3 linked regions of the Homo sapiens genome follow. The protein of the gene in region 3 purifies or fractionates together with the protein of the main gene of each other region. This does not show direct contact. Each region holds a gene or a part of one and is shown on either strand. Other genes may lie near its edges. The genes, in order: WDR44, PHF6 and PDXDC1.

The links.
Region 1: the proteins of PDXDC1 (region 3) and WDR44 fractionate together in Homo sapiens (co-fractionation; one large-scale study listed by BioGRID). This does not show direct contact.
Region 2: the proteins of PDXDC1 (region 3) and PHF6 fractionate together in Homo sapiens (co-fractionation; one large-scale study listed by BioGRID). This does not show direct contact.

What each region holds. Positions count from the first base shown.
Region 1 is NC_000023.11:118,352,455-118,356,107, forward strand, and holds part of WDR44 (WD repeat-containing protein 44), read left to right. Parts: intron 1-3,653. UniProt on the Homo sapiens protein: Downstream effector for Rab11 which regulates Rab11 intracellular membrane trafficking functions such as endocytic recycling, intracellular ciliogenesis and protein export.
Region 2 is NC_000023.11:134,379,746-134,383,398, forward strand, and holds part of PHF6 (PHD finger protein 6), read left to right. Parts: intron 1-3,653.
Region 3 is NC_000016.10:15,026,973-15,030,625, reverse strand, and holds part of PDXDC1 (pyridoxal-dependent decarboxylase domain-containing protein 1), read right to left. Parts: intron 1,749-3,653; coding exon 1,660-1,748; coding exon of another isoform or gene 1,594-1,659; exon of another isoform or gene 821-1,593; intron 676-820; coding exon 570-675; intron 1-569.

The sequences.
Region 1 (3,653 bases), on a different chromosome or scaffold from region 3:
AAGTGCTGAGATTACAGGTATGCACCACTGCACCTGTCCCTTGATTTTAAAAAATATTAAAAACCTAAATAGTTTTAGGATGTGAAGTATAGTGGTGGTCTTAAACAGAAAATAATTTCTAATTATTGGTATTTTAGACTTACTGTCTAACCTTTACATTACCCAACACTCCATGTGTTTGTACTCTTAAGTTCATTGTTAAGACTTTGACAGAATCAGGTGAATTTGCCAGGCAAGCACCTTTAAGAGGCTGCTTGTTTCCTCCTCATACTCTGCAATTTTGTTAGTTACTTCCTGGGGTAGTAGTGGAGGTGGAGGAAGGGAGTATAAAGAGATCATGCAGGTTGTGGTGATGGAGGTGGAAGAGGTAAAGGTAGCCCCAGCAGTAGGTATAGAGACCAAGTTACAGTGCTGCTTCCTGGGGCATGGATAACTGAGATAAGACAAATCCCATCATTTTGATACACATGTTCACAGCATGAATTAAATAACCCCTTCTCTAAGAGATTAATAACCTATAAGAAATACCTCAAATCAAAGTTAAAGTAACAAAAATTGTAGGTACTTTATGATGTCCTACTGATATTTAGCTTGAATTGATAAATAACCTATGTTTCTCATTTCTATCCATAGTTAGGCTAATATCTACAAACTTTCACAAGGACTGTTCCCCTCTCACTGTTGGATATTATTCAGCTAACCAGCTAAACCTTTAATAGGGTGCTTTCCTTACTCTTCAGAGTGAAACTCTTTCTATTCCCTTATTTCAAACTCAGCAGTGTTTGTGTTAGTCTGTCATCTCATGATTCAAAACCGAGGAAAAAGCACCTACGACATAATGTGGGCCTCATACCTGATGGCAACCCTGATGTTTTTCCTCAGTCAGTATACAAATTTATCTTGGTTACTATAGCAACCAGTCTATCAGTTATTCTTCTAGCTCTTTTGCCTTCTCTCAGATACTAGGATTACCATATAATCAGGTTCTGCCAGAGCGCTTCAGGTCTTAGAGTTCTATTACCAGCTGCAACTGTCTGGCAGTTCACAGTTTGGCATTCCATCAGAGTCAGTTGTTTTTTAAGTCCACAAAACCTTTTTGTCTCCAAACCTTTTTAAACATTTTAAACATATATAATTTAACAAAAACATGTTTAGGCAGCAATTTCCTCATACTAATTTTCTCAATCCAGTGTTAGTCATTGCCCTGAAGATTGAATGCATTGCATCACTGCATCCAATAGCCATCCCTTTATAATAACAAGTAGAATCAATTTCCAGATCGAGGGTGACCATTTAGGAAATATATTTGCAAATGTGATTTTAGACTCAGTATCATCACAAACTAGCTAAAATGACTTAAAAGCATCTTGATCATCAGCAGCTACCAAATAATCCAGCTTTTAACAAAAATGATTTCTATAGGTTGTAGAAAGAATGTTTGGCCTTTAGATTAATTCATTTTAATTTGAGAAAACTGTTTAGAAAACTAATAGGAAGTGTTATCTTTTGTAGCCCTTGAATAAACAGGAAGAGAACAGTAAAGACTGAATAGTTGTATGGGTCTTTTTTTTTATATTTATTTGACATACTTTTTTAACTCTTAAAAATCTCAGAATTCATGTAACTAAAATAGTTTTAAATTATAAATATGTTTACCTGTTTTGGTCAAAACAAGGATTGGCCAGGTACAGAAGCTCATGCCTGTAATCCCAGTGCCATGAGAGGCTGAGGTGGAGGGATCACTTGAAGCCAGGAGTTTGAGACCAGCCTGGGCAATGTAGCAAGACCTCATCTCTACAAAAAGTTTTTAAAAATTAGTTGGACATGATGGTGCATGCCTATAGTTCTAGCTATTTGGGAGATTGGGGCAGGAGGATTGCTTGGGCCCAGGAGGTCGAGGGTGCAGTGAGCTATGGTCACGCCACTGTACTCTGGCCTGGGCGATGGAGCCAGACTCTGTCTCTTAAAAAAAAAAAAAAACTATAGTTAAATTATGATAATGCTTCAAGGAAATCTTTAATTGTACAAATAGACTTAAGACTGGTTTCACTTTCTCCACAGAGTCCTGATCTTTAAAATTTTTCAAAGGGGGAGTCAGGTTTTTAAAAAATCTGAGGATGAAATATAAGATTTTTTGAAACTTCTGAGGGAAAACTTGAATGGTATTTTTTTTTATTATACTTTAAGTTCTGGGGTACATGTGCAGAACATGCAGTTTTGTTACATAGGTATACACTGAATGGTATTTTCTAATAGGTATCCTATACAGAACAAGCCATACCTGTAACAAGCTATCTATATCTGTATAAAACCTACTTGGCCACTACTAATTGTAATAGACTATTCCAGTACAAAACTCATTGAACCATGGGCATTCTTATGAACCACAGATCAAACTTTCTAGAGAACCTATAAATAGTATGTAGTGCTGTATGCAAACTCACTGTCCCAGGAGCAAGCATCCTGATTACTAAGCAAGCTCAAGAGAAGAGGTGGGAGTATTCTTTCTGACATTGTTCTTGAACTGGTAAGAATAGCTGTGGATGAACTTAATATCCATAGTCCTCTTTTAATTCTGTGCCTGAAAGTATTTATTGAAATTGGAAGACTAAGGGAATCATCTTTCTGGTTATTAGCAGTACTGTTAACAATTGAATTTTTTTTTTAAATCTGTCTTTTAAAATATATTACCTATCCATGCCAAACTAAAATGGCAGGTGGATTGAACATTTCACTCAGCCCCAACTCCACCCCTTTCACTGCCAGCTTTTTCTTTCCTAGCATAGTCAATGTCATTAGTACAGAGATTTCCTAGTATAACTACTTCTTGTCCCTTAAAACTGAGAAGGGTCAGTGATGGAAGAAATATAAAGGGTGGGAACTTTTGGAAGGAGTAAGGGAAAAATTGGTTGCATTGGATATGGTGGACAAGTTGGTAAAGACTTTAGTGTTACAGGTGGTGCTTAGTCATTGGATTAGTGAAAGATGGGTGAGCAGAATGAACAAGTAGCTTGATAAAACTAGTAGCTTTGTGAGTGAAAGCAAGTAGATTTGTCTGTATTTTGCAATGGGTATTTTATCTTTATTAGCTTGGCTTAAGGGTTAAGGTTAATGATTGAGATCAGTCCTTTTTCCTTTAAGTGCACCTTACTGTGCCTATTATGTCCCAGATCATAGCCCTTAGCTGTTGACTTTTAACCTTTGCCTTATTTCCCAGCATAGTCCACAGTTATGTCTAGCAGTGCACACAAGGTTTAGTTGGGGAGGCGGGTGGTGAGTAAGCATGCTCTGTGGTATCTACTGCGCTTCACAATTGGTTCTGATTTTGAACTTCCTGGTTCTCTCCAATCTCCAGTCACCCTTAAACACACACAGGTACCAGTTCCTATAAGAGGAGGTAGGTAAGGGAGCTGAGGCAAAGAGAGTGCTTTGGATGTATAGGATCTTCATAACTTGAGGACATCCTATACCCAGTAAATATTAAATGTTAACAGTAAAACCTTGGGTGGTGTTGCCAGTTATCCTGCATTCCTATCAGTTCCTTGTTACCAACTTTTTTTTCAGGAATGAATGTGTTCACAGTAAGAAAGAAATATTATAGTGCTACATGTTACATGCAAAGAACGATAACACCATAACACCATAATGCTAAC
Region 2 (3,653 bases), on a different chromosome or scaffold from region 3:
AAGCCCTGTTTTTCAAATGTGGATTTTATTTGGTGGTTTTAGGTTTCTTCACGTTACTGTGCTGATTTCTGAGAACCATAGCACTATGTTTTTATTTCCTAGTCCTTAAAATAAATGCAGATATAAAAAAGAATGATACTTACTTGAAAGTGATTGTGCTGTAAACCTTATTACCCCTTTATTTATTGCTTGACATTATGACTATCCCTGGAAAATATTTCTGTATCCTGACTTGTTAGCATTTTGTCACTTGACACAGCTTGTATAGTCAGAACAAAAGCAGTTTTGGTCCCTAATGTTGAAACATTATTAACAAATGCAATGCCTAGTGTTACACTACATGAAGCAACAGCATACATCTGTCAATATTGCGAAGTTCAGTGGAGATTTAATTTATTTGGACCTTTTTTTTTTTTTTTTTGACAGAGTCTCGCTCTGTCGCCCAGGCTGGAGTGCAGTGGCGTGATCTCGGCTCACTGCAAGCTCCACCTCCCAGGTTCACACCATTCTCCTGCCTCAGCCTCCCAAGTAGCTGGGACTACAGGCGCCCATCACTGTGCCTGGCTAATTTTTTGTATTTTTAGTAGAGACGGGGTTTCACCTTGGTCTCAATCTCCTGACCTCGTGACCTACCTGCCTCGGCCTCCCAAAGTTCTGGGATTACAGGTGTGAGCCACCGCGCCCGGCCTTGGACCTATTCGTTAAAGCATCAGAACTTTGTATGAGTTTTACTATTATAAATTGTTTTGATTAATTTTTAGTGTTATAGTGTAGGGAGATAATTTTTTCCCCAAATGTAGTGTGTTACAAATAACGAAATTTGTTCCTTGATCTAGGGAATGGAACAATACTGGGAATTGAGAACACAAGCTTTAGTGACAGACTTGAGTTTGAATCCCAGCTCTGTCATTTACTAGCTAGGTGATCCTGATTAAGTTATTTACTTCTCCAGGCCATGTTTTCCTCACCTGCAAAAGGGGTTAGATAATGACAGTACTTGCCTCCCAGAATTATTGCCAGAATTAAAAGAGGAAGTATATAGGATTTAAGGTGGTGCTGGGCACATGGTTAGGACTTGATAAATAGTAGCCACCACTTATTGTTTTTGTTTGTTTTTGTTTTTGAGATGGAGTCTTGCTCTGTTGCCCAGGCTGGAGTGCAGTGGTGCGATCTCGGCTCACTGCAGCCTCCACTGGGTTCAAGCAATTCTCCTGCCTCAGCCTCCCGAGTAGCTGGGACTACAGGTGTGTGCCACCATGCCTGGCTAATTTTTAATTTTTTTTTTATTTTTAGTAGAGACAGGGTTTTGCCACATTGGCCAGGCTGGTCTTGAATTCCTCACTTGAGACCGTCTGTCCGCCTCGGCCTCCCAAAGTGCGGGGATTCCAGGTGTGAGCACTGAGGAATAGTGGCAGAAGGGAAGAACTTTTGCTCCGTTTCCTTCCCTTAGAATGTCAGTTTAAACAACTTATATAGGGGATAGGAATGTAACATACGTTTAGGTTTGAAATAATTTTTGAAACTCCTTTTAGCCTTCAGTTTTGCTTCTTTCATTATATCATTTTTACATGATGTGCTATCAGGTAACCAAAATTCTAGATTTAAGTTTGATTCTCTACTATTCCCTGTGTCAATTTGTCTAAGCAATAAAAGGGCTATGAATCAAATAGGAGGGGGGAAAAAGAGTGAAGAGCTTAATGTAACTAGATAAACTGCATATAAACTAGGTAATCAGCTTCCCTAATTGACATTTTTTTTTTTTTTTTGAGATGGAGTTTCGCTCTTGTTGCCCAGGCTGGAGTGCAATGGCGCGATCTCGGCTCACTGCAACCTCCGCCTCCTAGGTACAAGCGATTTTCCTGTCTCAGCCTCCCAAGTAGGTCAGATTACAGGCATGTGCCACCATGCCCAGCTAATTTTTTTGTATTTAGTAGAGACGGGGTTTCACCATGTTAGGCTGGTCGCGAACTCCTGACCTCAGGTGATCTACCAGCCTCGGCCTCCCAAAGTGCTGGGATTACAGGCGTGCACCACCATGCCTGGCCCCTAATTGACTTTTTAAGGCATTTTATCCCGTGAGCCTGTTTGCTTTGGCTCCTGTTCATCTGGATTTCTAGGTGAAAAGTAGGTCATGAACACTCATTCAAAATCATCGAAAACTGGAGTACTGAACCCTGAGTGCTTTCAAGACAAATTTCAATCTGTACCTGGTGTTGACTCCAAAGTTGCTCGCTTGCCCCAAAGAAAAGAACAGAGAGATAAGGAGGCTAGGGCTTGAGGTTAAAGTGTACGTATCAACAGCCAGGTGGGTCAGAGTTGAGGATGAGAGGGCTCAGTAGAGCAGGAGGTGTGAGTGTTTGGTTTTTATGTTCTTGCTGCCACAGGCAATTTTCCAAGGTTCATGTCAGCCACAAGGATCAAAGGAGGAAAGCCATTCTGCATGAACATTTTCATCTCCTTTACACGGTCTTTAATTATATAGCACCAAGATGGACCAGGAAAAATTTGCCAGAGTACTAAGGCTTTTATGATTTGATGCCCTGTTTTTGCAGTTTAGACAGATATATATTTTTCCAGTATGATTTCCAGTTTCTACTGAAGCCATATGGAGATACCACATCTGTACCATCTATTCTTACTTAACTCCAGTCATCTAGCCAAGAAATGCAAATTTCCAAGTAAAATTATGAGTTAGCACTGCTTTTTTGAATTTAAGGAGATACTTGAAAGAAGGATATTTGAAGAATTTACCGTTTCTGGATGAAGCTAGCTGGTGAGATTACTAAGGGTATCTACTATCTACATTGGATAGCTATTCTTCTTTTTTTTTTTTTTTTTTTAAGATGGAGTTTCCCTCTTGTTGCCTAGGCTGGATTGCAGTGACATGATCTCGGCTCACTGCAACTCCGCCTCCCAGGTTCAAGCAATTCCCCTGCCTCAGCCTCCCCATTGGCTGCAATTATAGGCGCCCACCACCACGCCCAGCTAATTTTTTGTATTTTTAGTAGAGACAGGGTTTACCACGTTGGCCAGGCAGGTCTCAAACTCCTGACCTCAGGTGATCCGCCTGCCTCTGCAGATAGCTATTATTCTAATTGGTACCGGTGTCAGATTATATCACAGATTACAAGAAGAGAAAGAGTTCAGAAGGCCATTTAGTTCACCTGTCTTACCCCTATGCAAGATTTCCTACAAGCCACTCAAGATAAGATTTTTGGCCTAAGGATTGGCTGACACGTGTAATCCTAGTGCTTTGGGAGGCCGACTGGGAGGATTGCTTGAGGCCAGGAGTTGAAGACCAGCCTGGACAACAAAGTGAGACCCCTATCTCTACAAAAAAATTTAAAAATTTTGAAATGTGGCATGTTCCTGTAGACCTAGCTACTCAAGAGGCTGAGGTGGGAGGATTGTGTAAGCTCAGGAGTTCGAGGCTGTGGTGAGCTATGATTGTGCCACTGTATCCATCTAGCCTGGGTGATAAAGTGAGGTCCTGTCTCAAAAAAAAAAATTTTTTTTTGCCCTGTTTTTAAATATATCAAGAAATTGTAATTCTACCCAAGTAACCTGAAACAAGACCAGTAATATATAACACTCTTCAGAGTTGAGAAATTCATCCTTCTGTATAAATTAAGTATTTCTCTTAATTTAAAGCC
Region 3 (3,653 bases):
GGTGACAGAGCAAGACCCTGTCTCAACAACAACAAAAAAGGAATTCATGTGATGACTTTTTTTTTTTTTTTTTTTTTTTTTGAGATGGAGTCTCCTCTGTCCCCCAGGCTGGAGTGCAGTGGTGTAATCTCAGCTCACTGCAACCTCGGCCTCCCAGGTTCAAGTGATTCTCCTGCCTCAGCCTCCCAAGTAGCTGGGACTGCAGGTGTGTACCACCATGCCTGGCTAATTTTTTGTATTCTTAGTAGGGGCGGGATTTCACTATGTTGGCCAGGCTGGTCTCGAACTCCTGACCTCAGATGATCTGCCTGCCTTGGCCTCCCAAGGTGCTGGGATTACAGGTGTGAGCCACCATGCCCGGCCAATTCAGGTGACTTCTGAATTCTCATTCTGATTCTGGTAAGTTACATGGGAATGCTAATCTACCTAAATTTAGCCCAAAAGAAAAGAAAATGCCCCTCCAAAAAGAGCTGCTAATAACTCTAGGAGAATGGAGTATCATAAGGGCAAGCTAATCTACCCAGCAGCCCCAGAACAAAAGCAAGGGATGTCCACCAAGCCTGGTTTACCTGCTGCGGTCATCAAAGGGCTGAACCGCAAACACGTGCCCTCAGCTTCCAGATCCATGACTGTGAGGCCGCTTGCAGGCACCAGCTGCTTCAGCTGTTCTCCCAGCTGTGAGGAGGACACAATGAACACCCTCCTGTAACAAGGGACTCAGACGTCTTCAGGACCCACCCTCATCCCCTCGGCCCCAGACCAAAGAGCCTCCTGGAGAGCTGATTCCTGCTCTTTTGACTGTCTGATTACTTAGAGCAGCTTTTTAAAAACAGTAAATTTTATGGTTTTTTCTTATTAATACAAGTTCATTGTAGAAAAATTTAGGAAATACAAGTAAACAAAAAGAAGAAAATAACAATGACCCACAATATATTACTAAGCGACACCCACTGCTGACATGTGGTCTGCCCCCAGCGTCTTTTCTCCTAGTGGCGGGCAGGGAGTTGTAGTTGTTGTCATAAAACATGCTACTTGACACTGCTTAGTAACCTGCATTGATTCATTTCGTTTATGACCAGTTCCTTTCTGCTTGAGACACTCAGCTCTGTGGTCTCTCACAGCTGTGCTGAGCCCCAGCATGGATGTACCAGGACTTATCTGCCAACCCTGCTAGGCTGGGCGTGTCCAGCATTGGCTAGAACTGCTGCTGCCGCCATCCCACACTGTTCACAAGACCCTTCAGACTCAAATCCTAGAGCTGCTATTCAGTGCCCAAAACGCTATCAAAGTGCAGGCCTGGCTCCACACTGCCAGCTGCAGATGCTCGGCAGACTCTGCCTGGGGCTCCCGGCTGTGCTGCCCAGGCTCACCAGAACCCACCGCAGCTGCCCTGCAGCCCACCTTTTGCCTGTTGTCTCACAGCCTTATACAGCAGCAAGGAAAGTGAGGGAGCAATGCCAGAAGGACTTGCCAGAGGTGACCCAGCTCGTGAGGTGGTAACGCAATGGGGAACAGAACTCCAGAGCAGGCCCAGCACTGGCAGGGCGGCTCCTCCTGTGGGCCTCAGTTCCCATACACGAGCACGCGTCACCCTCACCAGCAGGTCGGATGGTGATGGACGGGGACCTGAAAGGAAAGGGGGGTGACTGCCATTCTCACCCAGCGATTCAGCGCGTCACACGAGTGCCTCTCCCGGCCGACTCCTGAAGGTGTCATGTTGGGCACTGGGACGGCTTTAAACACCGGATCTGACACCAAAACACAGAAAGGGAGTCACTCCCAGAAACACGGCTGACCAAAAAAAACACCCTCCAAACCCCACATCATTCCCATCCCAATATTAGCCCCAGGGCACTGACTCGTATTACTGAATTCTCATGTATTATCTGACAGAAGGGCTACATTTCTTTTTCCTCGTGATCTATGTAACACTTGAATACATTCACATAAGACAGAATTATTAATTTCATTTTTGAAAAGGTTTGCTTTCAAGGGATTTCAAGGGGAAACAGCAATTGTTTTAAGTTACTAACTAGTTTACCAAGCACCGTGCGAGGTCTGTGAGTGCCACGATCATCTAACTAGGCCTCACAGTGGGTGCCAACCCGTGCCAGGCACAGAGCCCGACACTTGGGACAGAAGGCAGGTAAGGTTTCTGTCATCTTGGAGCTTACATTTTAGTTGAGGAAACAGACCATAAAGAAAGAAAATCACTCCATGTGGTTGTTAGTGTCACAAGTGAAGCTGGGGGCTCTGATAGAAAATGATGGAGTCCCCTCAGGCACGATAGGCAGGGAAGGCTGAGGATGTGGATACTTAGTGGAGACCGAAATGGTGAGGAGGAGCTGGCACCAGAAGAGAGAAATGTGTGTAAGACAGAGGGAACGCCGAGTGTTAAGCCCTTGCGGTAGGAAAGGGCAGAGTGTTCTGGAGCGCGGAGAAGACTGGTCTGACTGAGGCACAACGAACAAGAGGGAGAGTGGAAGGGGGGAAGGCAGAAGCGAATTCGGGGCAGAGTGTGCAGGCCTCATGGGGCATGGGAGAGCCTGGCCTTTGTTCGACCGAAATGGTAAGATACCCAGGGGCTCTGGGCAGGGAAGTGACACTGATACGGGAGTGCTGGGAAGGGAAGAGCGTGGTCCCTTTAAATGACACAGAAGCGGGGAAGGGAAGTGCTGGGGAGAGAAAGGCGGGTCCCTGGCTAGGACTCTACCCCCACGGACCTAGGTGAGGACAAGCACTCCTGCCTTCCCCCAAATGTTGCATTTCCCAAGACCACGCTGGCCCACCACACCACCATCCTGGGCCTATAAAAACCTGAGACCCTAGTGGGCAGACAGAAGTGGCTGGATGGCCAGAGGAACACATTGGTGGAAAAAGACACAAGCGGCTGGTCATGGAGAGCAGGCCGGCAGAAGAGCACCCCGACAGGCCCCGGCAAGCCAGCAGGCCATCAACCACGGGGACGAGGCGGAGTTTGGCCAGGGCCGCTGAGCGGCCCAACTCCAAGGGAAATCTGTCTCCCTTCTGGCTCCCCCATCAGCGGAGAGCTACTTTCATTCAATAAAACCTTGCACTCATTCTCCAAGCCCACATGTGATCCCATTCTTCCGGTACACCAAGACAAGAACCTGGGATACATTAATCCCTCTGTCCTTGTGATAAGGAAGGGGGTCTAAGTGAGCTAAAACAAGCTGCCTACAGACGGCTAAATTAAAAGAGCACACTGTAACACATGCCCGCTGGAGCCTTAGGAGCTGTAAAACATTCACCCCCAGATGCTGCCATGGGGTCGGAGCCCCACAGCCTGCCCGTCTGTATGCTCTCCTAGAGGTCTGAGCAGCAGCGGGGCACTGAAGAAGCGAGCCACACCCCCATCACATGCCCTGCGAGGGGGACAAGGGAACCTTTCCGGTTTCAACACCATGTGACTTCCACTTATAACCCTCTCTGCCAGGTGGAGAATGGTCTGGAATGGGCTGTGTAGAATGTATGAAAGTCAGAGGTCAGTTGACAGGGGACAATGGCCAACCAGGTAAAAAAAGAGTGGTGCCCTGGACTAGACTGGTGGCACTTGGGTCATTCTTTAAGATACAGATTCCTGGGCACAACCTATTGACTCAAAATATGTGGGAAGTAAGACCCACAAATCT